Linked DNA regions of Homo sapiens: region 2 is linked to region 1. The links come from fine-mapping of genetic effects on gene expression. A gene starts in region 1. The other region holds a variant in brackets. All regions are shown on one strand. Distances are between the middles of the regions. Region 1 holds the start of ST3GAL6 (ST3 beta-galactoside alpha-2,3-sialyltransferase 6). Region 2 overlaps ST3GAL6-AS1 (ST3GAL6 antisense RNA 1).

The links. PIP is the estimated chance that this variant, and not a neighbour inherited with it, causes the effect. A credible set is the group of variants that fine-mapping cannot tell apart.
Region 2: its variant is the best candidate, but not a certain one, in a credible set for the expression of ST3GAL6 in testis (GTEx, PIP 0.54).

The regions. Positions count from the first base shown.
Region 1 is chr3:98,760,894-98,765,893 of GRCh38, reverse strand. ST3GAL6 (ST3 beta-galactoside alpha-2,3-sialyltransferase 6) reads right to left here and starts at 2,554. Exons shown (of 10, transcript NM_001323368.2): 1 at 2,455-2,554.
Region 2 is chr3:98,719,717-98,725,248 of GRCh38, reverse strand. All of the region lies in intron 1 of ST3GAL6-AS1 (ST3GAL6 antisense RNA 1), which reads left to right. Among named protein-coding and RNA genes, the nearest start is that of ST3GAL6-AS1, 10 kb to the left of the region's middle. The variant A/T (reference allele first, on the strand shown) is at 3,211.

The DNA.
Region 1 (5,000 bases):
ATAAGTGGAAGGGCATTTTGCTTTGAGCAAAAACATTCAAAGAAAAAAACAGAATTTAAGAGGTTATCTGCTTTTAAAAAGACATAAGGCCCTTTAATATAGCTTTGATTACCAAAAAAAAGAGTTTTCAAGATCTTGACATTAAACAGGACCAATGCCAGCTTTGTGGCTGCAGATGCTCCTAAAATCAGGGTCCCTAAAACATCCTTTACAAAAATGTGGGTAGAGGATGGCAAGGGAAAGAAGGACTCACTGGCAGAGGACAAATGTTCACATATTCTCCAACTAAGATATGTAACCCAATGTATAAGTAACCTATATATGCCAAATTAAACTCAATCTTGACAAATGTTTCACTTTGCTTTAATAGTAAAAGCATATTTTGTGTGGAGCATCAAAGTTCATAAAAAATCTTTTATATGTCCATCCCTCCATTTAAGGCTCAAAATAAGCTTGTTAGATGGGTGTGCAGGTGTTGTCTTCTTGATGAATGAGGAAAACTGAAGGTTTATAAGGTTGAGTTGTCTGAGGTCACACAGTTTAAGGAAGACAGAAATAGATTTATGGTTCAATCATTTCTTTCTCAGAGTTCCATTCCTGGTGTTATCCTGTCTCTCAAGATAAAAAGCACAAGGCAAATCTAAAAGAGATAATTCTAATCTGAAAATTCCTAATGGTGTTCCATTGGTATCTTGAAGTCTAGAAGGGTAAATTCAGATATTGGTGAAAGGAGGTGACTCTAGGGCAGGCTCAAGAGTCTGCACCAGGCGGGGACTTGTTAACATGCACACTCCTGAGCCTCTACTTAATCTGAATCTCTGGGGCTCAGGAATGTGCATTTAAACAGCATCCACCAATTTGATTCTTATGCACACTAAAATTTTGAGAATCACTGCTCTAAGAAATACAATAGAACCATGGAAGAATTTCTGAAATACAGAGACTGTAACAGATACAGATCCCATAACTAGATGCTTTGTATTATTTTTTTTTACCCTAAATGCCTAGCACGTGGTAAATGCTCAATGAATAACAACTGATTAGAAGCATTAAGATGTATGAGTGCTTAGCCTGTGCCAAGGCATGTGATAATTGCTTTTGGTGTATTACCTCATGACATCCTGACAACCACCTTGCAAAAGAAGTGGTAGACTTACAATTCCTATTTTGTAGAGGAGGAAACCAAAACTCTGGGAGAAGCAACGACTTTGTTGAGCTGACAAGTAGCAGAACGAGGACTCAAATCTGTCTCTATCAGGCCACAGGCCATGCGTTATACTACCTCCCCCTAGATGTGAGCTTTCACAAGTGAGCACAGGCCCCTCCTTTTGCTACCAGACTAAACATTACTGAACATTTCTCCAACTTAAGCAATCCTGCAAGCTCCTTAAGCAATATCAATTCTAGTAATTGATGAAATGGAGGTAAAGCTTATAATACTTTTGATTCAAACTCAGCTGAAATAAAAGCCTGTTACTCCCAACCCTGTTCCCAGTTCTGCTCCTCCCAACCATGCTAGCATTGTTTATAAAAACAAACTCTACGGAGAAACACTTGAAAAAAATGTCAGGTTTTTTTTTAGACTCCCCTAATGCTTTCTCAAACCAAAGGGAGCTTGCTTTTCCAACCAGCTAGAAAAAAGCATGTTCAGCAATAATTCTAGAAACATTGTTCTACTTATCAAGCATTAGGTTAGTGCAAAAGTAATTGTGGTTTTTGTCATTTAAAACCAACCTAATAGAAAAACCCGGTGGGTATCTCAGTCAATATGCAACACCAAGGAAGAAAGACCCTTGGCGTTCTCTATTCCGGATGCTGAGCACACACAAACCTCACCTCCCTGTCTCCTCCATCCCCAGTTCTGTTTCAGTCTGGAAGCAGGTGCTTCCTAATGCCCATCTGCAAGCCCAGCCACCCCAGGCACTGGGACTGATTCTGACCCACAGAAAGAGAGTCTGAGGAGCCCTCGACTAGCAGCTTAACAGTTGGGTCAGGTTCCTGTGGATCCAGTAGTGATCCTGGTCATCTCATCCACTGGACCTGGGTTCCTGCTGCTGGGTGCTTAAACTATACCACACTTTTCCAACGTCTGCATTCTTCTCTTTCCTAGTCACCCTAGCAGCTCTGCAGCCAAACTTCCATTTTTTTTTTTTTTTTTTTAGTCACTAGGATCCTAAACCATGTCCCCATCTGCCCTGGGGTGAGGCACCCTTCTGTTCCCTGCTTCCTCAGTGGCAGACATACTACTCTTTCTACTACTAGGTCTCTTCTCAAACCCAACATGCTGCTGTTCAATAATACTCCTCAGTAACTCACATCTTTGTGCAAATAAGAGAAGCACATCCCCCTTCTACCTCCACACAGCCTGTGGGCACCTAATGTCTAATATCTCAGCAGCATCTAGATTTAAGCCACAACCTTCCCCTTAAGCAGGTAACCTTGTTCATGGCTCACCTCCATACCTTTACCAGGTGGCCCTGCTGACACCTGTGTCCATTCAGCCCCTGGACAGGCCGTCATCCATCCTAGTCTCTGCTGGTCTTCAGCTCACACTGACATACACTCCAGACTGTGTGGAACATGGCCAACAGATTTCACATCCTGCCTTCCTTCCTCTTTGTACTTATTACTCAATTTGTGATTATAATCTGCAGTCACATGCCTACATGAGCAAATCTACAACAGAACCTCCAACTCTAGCCATGCATTAATGTCTAGATTTTTTTTGGTCCAGCCTCATAGGTCCCCTAAGCCTAAGCCTCACAGACCCAGCCATCTCCATATGACCTGAGCCTTAATGTACAGGACTCCACAGTGATGAATGGAAAGGCCTCAGTCCTCCTCAATTCATTTACTACCTCTCTTTTAGGTTTGGTCCTTATTACTAATTAGGTAGTCCAAATGCGTGAGATCAGCTTCATTCATATCCCAAGGATCTACAACCTCTGGCAGCGATGATCATGTAAATGATAGCACAGTTTATTAACCACTTACTAAATGGCCAGCACAGTACTAAGCCCTTTTTCACATAAGGATGAAATCACGGATATTTTCATCCCCATGCTAGATATGTTTAATACCCAGAGCACTGGCCAGAATTCAAACTGAGATCTGATTTCAAAGCCCACACTTTGAAATTGTGGCTTATAGAAAACTATAATAACCATATTTTTAAGAGTATGAACTGTTAAATAATCATTTAATAATATCTTTTAAAAATAAAACAAGGGGATGATACACATTAAATTATGCATTTATCAAACACACTTCTTTAGAAACATTATAATATGAAAAGCTATTAATCTCATAATTAAAGAGAGAAATCCTAAGGAATCAGTAGTCTGGTTGATGGGATTTTCTGCTAGAAGGATGACGAAATTCTCAATAGACCATAATTAAAGAAATAAAAAACAGCACATATAGATTTTTTAAACATACAATATTACAACGAAAAGGCTAAATTTAATCTGAAGTTATAAACTAATGCTATTTAATACAAGTTAAGAAAAAAACTCTGACATTGCTGAGTAAATTAACAGAAAATCTGATTTATGCCCCCCTCCAAAAATATTGAGTTGTGTAGTGTCAACAAATTAGATCAGCTGTATACATTTTGACTGATTTCTAAGAATATAACTATTTTCTTTCTGCATTGCAGAAAGGGAACACGTATAATTAACTTTCTTTCCCTCTCCTCCCCCAACTCTTCTGCTAATACAATGATATGAAGCTGGTTCCGACATGCATATGCACAAACACCCTTCTCTTTCAGCTTTTCAACAAAGCCAGTGCTTTCACCAGTGCTTTCACTGTCCTTAGCACATGTAGACAGATCTTTTCACTTAATTAAAGATAAGCCTTCTGCCAAAGCAGATGACCAGATCCTCTCCTGAAAGTGGGGTGTGCTCACTGCAAAGAATATAAAAAGGAGAGAAATGACTTCTCAGCAGAATTTTCTTCTTTAATAGCACAACAGGACACACTAAAATCATTCAGCTAATAGCAACTATATGGGATGCTAAAAATAGAAGAACTGGAGTTCCTGTTTTCAAGAGCTCTCTCTTCAGACTCAGGTCCATTGCAAGTACACAAGTAAGCTTTTAGGGAACTTCTTTTGTTCCTACTGTTTATTCACATTTTCTTTCCATGCCCATTTATTCTCTTAAAGTAAAAATTGTCCCTGTATTCTCTTATTAACATCCTGCTAATAAGATATCAGCTTCCAAGAAGCATTAGATGTTGTTAACAGGTTGATGACTGTGGCTACTTTTTTTTTTTTTTTTTGAGATGGAGTCTTGCTCTGTTGCCCAGGCTGAAGTGTAGTGATGCAATCTTGGCTCACTGCAACCTCCACCACCCGGGTTCAAGCAATTTCTCCTGCTTCAGCCTCCCAAGTAGCTGGGACTATAGGCACGTGCCACCATGCCTGGCTAATTCTTTGTATTTTTAATAGAGATGGGGTTTTGCCATGTTGGCCAGGCTGGTCTCGAACTCCTAACCTCAAGTGATCCACCCACCTCGGCCTCCCAAAGTGCTGGGATTACAGGCATCAGCCACCATGCCCAGCCTGTGTGTAATTTTTAAAATTGCCTTTATTCATTTTTTTCCTTTTTTTGAGACAGGGTCTCACTATACTGTCCAGCCTGGTCTCTAACTTCTGGGCTCAAGTAATCCTCCTGCCTCAGCCTCCTGAGTAGCTGGGGATAAAATTTTTATACACTAAAATTCGCCACTTTTAAGTGTATCAGGTAACAACCACTGAAGTCATGATTCTAAACATTGTCATCAACCTCAAAAGTTCCTTTGTTCCTCTTTGTAGTCACTTCCTTCTTCCCACTTCCTGGCCCCTAGCAGCCTGATCTGCTATCACTATAGTTTTGCTTTTCTAAAATTTCATATAAATTGAATCATATAATATATATCTTATTTCTGACTTCTGTCAATTAACATAATACTTTTTAAAAAAATGCTCAAGTTGTTGCTTGTACCAGGAGTTCATT
Region 2 (5,532 bases), 41 kb after region 1:
TCAAATGGGTCCTGGACTTTGGACCCACAATATTTTGTATAAGCGATAAAAGATTTTACTGGCTATAGATTACAAAGTTGAATATTTTGAATCTTCCTGGGCCCTTGATAGTGAAGAGTCCTGCTTACTGACAATGTCTCAGACAAAACTCTAATCCACAGGCTGAAAAACAGTAACACACCAATACTAAAGATTTGGAAGTTGTTCCTAAATTTTACTTAACCCCAGGATTATTCACAGGTTCATTTGAACATCACTTCAGAAAAGGTGCATGTCCCTTCCAGTTCAGTACCGCCTACCTCCAACACTTACTCTGTATCTGAGATCTCTCAAGGATTCATTACCCAACTTCCATTGAGGGACTAGCGAGTCTTCTATTCCTAGCTCTGACTACTTTCTTAAGTCTTAGTCTTGTATCTCCAATTGCCTGCTGAACATTCAGTTTAACATGTGTTTATCAGTTCCCAATGTAAAGCTAAACTCTTTAGGCTTCCAGCTCAGCCAGCCATTTAACTTACATTTTTATTGGTGATAATGCTTTTTCTCCCACTTATGAAACCTCAGTCATCCTGACCTCTCCTTTTTCTCATCTTACTTGAACTTTCCTCCTTCATGTCATTAACATACTTCATATTCAATCATTAAATACATCTTTACTTAGTGCCTACTATTTGCCAGGCACTATAGTTCTAGGTGCTAGGAGTACAGTTTACCAGCAGGAAAATAAAAAGAAATTATTGCTTGCTCTCTCTAGAGGTGCTCGCTCGCTCTCTCTCTCTCTCTCTCCCACCCTCGAGAGAGAGCAAATTTTTTATTTTTATTTTATAAAATTTTTAGAGACAGGGTCTTGCTCTGTCACCCAGGCTCGAGTATAATGAATAACACAATCATAGCTGACTATAGCCTCCAAATCCTGGGCTCAAGTGATCCTTCCACCTCAGCCTCCTGAATAGCTCAGATTACAGGTGCGCACCACCACACCGGCTATTTATTTTTTGTAGAGACAAAGTCTCACTATGTCGCCCAGGCTGCTGCTCCAACTCATGGCTTCAAGTGATCCTCCGCTTGGCCTCCCAATGTAATGGGATCACAGGTGTGAGCCACCATGCCTGGCTGCTTACAGTCTAATATTTAATGGTGTCCAGAAAGAGTCTTCAGAGGTCATCTTGTTGATCGCTTTATCTCTGTTTCACTTGTGCTTCCCCTCCCATAGTGTTCATTCGCATTCCCTGTGGGAGGTCACCTAGAGCTGGGATCTGTGCGATGCTATCCCAGGGATCCACAACTCACCATTCTACTTCTCAGTCTTGGGCTAGTCGCCCAAACTCTTTCTCTCCTTAGGTTTCTTTTCTCTTTCTCTGTAGAATAACCTGCCTCTTCCACCTCGCCACGCTCATTCCCCTAACATGAAGCACAACAGTGGACTCCTGCTTCTCTGACTCAATCAGTCTAAGATTTCTAAACAAAAGAAACACAAGTTGAGTTGTCTTCTGGATATCTGGTGACTTTTAGTTTTTATTCTGTAACCAAAAAATCACTGAGCCAACAGAACACCAAAGCTCTGTTACCTTCTTGAGATGGAGGAGTGATAAATATTTACAGCAGGGATATATGTGGGAACATAAAGAGATTTAAGAGTAATTCCTGTTTAACAGTCATCTATCAACACAAGGCAAAATATGGCCACCCCAAATATATGAAAGCCCTCAACAGACAAGAAGTCAGATGAAGCAGGGGGAAAAAAAAAAAAAGACCGAGCACAGTGGCTCGCGCCTGTAATCCCAGCAATTTGGGAGGCCGAGGCAGGCGGATCACGAGGTCAGGAGTTCAAGACCATCCTGGCCAACAGGGTGAAACCTCATCTCTACTAAAAATACAAAAATTACCTGGGCGTGGTGGCGTGTGCCTGTAATCCAAGCTACTTGGGAGGCTGAGGCAGGAGAATCGCTTGAACCAGGGAGTCGGAGGTTGCAGTGAGCTGAGAGCGCACCACAGCACTCCAGCCTGCCAACAGAGCAAGACTCCATCTCAAAAAAAAAAGAGGGGAGAGGGGATTTTGCATTCATTATCATATCTAATAGCAACAAATCTAGTAGTTAGATATTACTGAGGTAATATGATGAGAGCAGAAACAGTCAAGGACAGAACCAGAGGCAAACCCAGGTCTCCGTGGGTCCAAAGCAAAGACACACAAACTCACCTGACAGAAGCGGGGGATCCAGTGCTCTTTTAGGAACCCTCTCAATTGACTCTGACATAAAAATAAAAATTTTAACTGAGGAGAACAGATATAATTTAATTCTCAACTTTCTGAGGTTTGATGAAATATTGATAACAAGTAACTAATTCATGTCATTACTTTTTTTTTAACTTTAAGACTAAATTTCAAGTTTGTCATTACATTTCCATTTTTTTCCTTGTAAAAATTGTGCTTTTCTTACTATCCTTAAAAAGAAAGATCTGGGAATGGCCTATTAAGTAAACAGCTGTCTGATGCAGCAGCCCAGACCTTACAGTTTTCCCTTCTTTGTAAATGTTATTTCGGAAAAGATTCAGTACTTTAGGAATTGAGTAGCCTTTTCCAAATTGTATCGTGCTGGGAGATGCTAATCTGAGTTCTAAGAACAAAGGATATCTCGCAAACAAGATTGAGTACTAACCTCGCCTCCCACACCCCTGCCTCCAGGCCATATTCAGTACATATTAGCATATTAAAGAACCAGGTAAAAACAGCAAAAAGGAAAGCTGTTTAACTTTCCTTAAATGTTAAACAGATCTAAACAAGCTTGTTTTTGTGTCAAAGACTTTTTTATTCAGTATTCTATCATAATCTCCTATCTCTATCTCCCAAAACAAATTAAAACAACAATAAAAAAACCAATTGCTGTAGATTTGGGTCTGTATATATCCAGTTGGAGGACCAACAGCTGGGATCTTTGATAAAATCAACTGTGACTATAAAGGGTTAAAGATGAAAGTCACTTTATTTCATTAGGAATTTATTTATCAATCTATTAATTTATTTTAGAGACAGGGCTGGAGTCAATGGCACAGTTATTCATTGCAAGCTCAACTCCTGGGCTCAATCCTCCTGTCTCAGCCTCCTGACTATCTAGGACTAAGGGATAATACTACCACACACGGCATATCTATCTATCTGTGTGTCTGTCTGTCTATCTATCTATCTATCTTTACTTATTTATTTATTTT[A/T]TTTTTTTTTTTGTAGACAGGGAGTCTTGCTATGTTGCTCAAGCTGGCCTTAGATATCTGGCCTCAAGCAATCCTCCCAAGCTGGCTTCACAAAGTACTGGGATTATGGGTGTGAGCCACTGCACCCAGCTCTAGAAATATATTTAGAAGAAAATTGCTTGGCAAACTTGCAGTGACAGGTTTAATATAAAATCATCACTGTATTTTTGAAACCATACATCTATCAGCATTTCCTTTTTTTTTTTTTTTTTTTTTTTTTTTTTTTTTTTTTTTTGACAGAGTCTCGCTCTGTCGCCCAGGTTGGAATGCAGTGGCGTGATCTCGGATCACCGGAACCTCCACCTCCTGGGTTCTAGACATTCTTCTGCCTCAGCCTCCTGAATAGCTGGGATTACAGGTGCATGCCACCATGCCTGGCTAATTTTTGTATTTTTAGTAGAGATGGGGTTTCACCATATTGGCCAAGCTGATCTTGAACTCCTGACTTCAAGTGATCTACCCACCTCGGCCTCCCAAAGTGCTGGGATTACAGGCATTAGTCACCGCAGCCGGCCAGCATTTTCTAATATTTTATTATATAAGTATTTATGTTTTAGTTCATGCATAATAAAATAGATTCTGGTCCAAATCTGGATAAATGTCTGAAATAATTTTCTATTATTTTGTCTGCTGGCTTTTCTCATTTCTATAGAAGCAGCTTGTGCAATGTAAATTCTCTAGCATTAAATACTTTTACAATCAAAGTCTTAGTGCAACAGAAATTCCTTTGGCATCAACCTATGTCTACTTATTTCCAGCACAACTTGATAGTACATCAGAATGTGAACTGAATATTGGAATGATATTTGATATGTGTATCACACCTTCATTAATTTATTGCTTTACATATTTCATGAGAACCTATGTGTCCAGCACAGTGGCATTGTAGGCACTGGACATACACAGTTCTAGATGGAGTTTCTGCCTTGGGAGGTGATATGAGGAAAATAGTCATTGAGACTAAAAATATTTACTGAGATTCATACTTGTCATGCATTGAGCTAGGTTCAGAGAATACAGTGGTGAACAGACAGGTTCCCTATCTTGATGATGCTTGCAGACATTGTTCATTCAAGCTGCTATAACAAAATACCATAAACTGGGTAGCTTGTAAACAAAAAACATTTATTTCTTATAGTTCTGGAAGCCGTTAAGTCCAAGATCAGGGTGCTGGCAGATTTAGTGTCTGGAGAAGGCTTGCTTTCTCATAGATGACAACTTCTTTGTCCTCCCCTGGTGCAAGGGGCCAACCAGCTCTCTGATGCCTCTTTGATAAGGGAATTAATCTCTTATAAGGCTCTTCCTTCATGACCTAATCACCTCCTAACCCCACCTCTTAACACTATTGCATTGAGGACTAGGTACAACATGTTTGGGGGAAACACAAACATTCAGACCATAGCAGATATGTAGACTAATACTATTTCAGCATATTGCAACTATTAGACATAAACAGCATTAATAGAAAAAAGGACACAACCTCCTAGGTACATCAGGAAAGATGGAATTGGTGATGTGCTTTATGCAGAATATAATTGTCTCTTTTTTTCTTAATTTTTCTTTACTAGTATTGCCTTATCTTTGCTTTAAATAAAGCATGCATGTACCCAAGATTTGCCAGAAGAACGATTCTATCTCAGGATTCTCAGCCACTGAGATGTGAAATGGCTTTCCAAAAAAATCTTCAGTGCTCGGACACTCTGATTCATACCACCTAACATAGCTCAAAGCCATAGCATGGATCACTGATGCCTGCCTAGGGTTTCTGATTCTGTAGGATTAAAGTGTGATATGAGACTTTGTACTGTTAACAGGCTCCCAGAAGTTGCTGATGCTGCCAGTCCAGGGGCCACACTTTAAAAATCATAGTTTAAAGGATTAAATATACCAACTTAAAAGTTAAAATAATTATTGGAAGATTGTGAGGCAGATAATATCTCTGTTTCACAGGATGAATAACAAGCCTAGGTTATTTAGAAAATGCAAAGTTATAAGGAGATAGACAAAACTAAATACAGTAATAAATATTTCATGTCCTCAGTGCAACAGTCTATTAACTTGAAGCCCAAAGCCTCCATCTATCACTGATCATCAGAATCCAAAATACTTTGAGGATGAAATGCTTTATTTGACTTGTTATCACTCTCTTTTTTTAATCTCATAGACAGATGTTTTAGAAATTTAGATATTAAAAAGTTGTGACCGCATCTGTGACCAGTATTATAATGCTGGACTTCATGATGCGGCCTCAAGGCCACTGCTTTAATGTAGGTAGGCAAATTC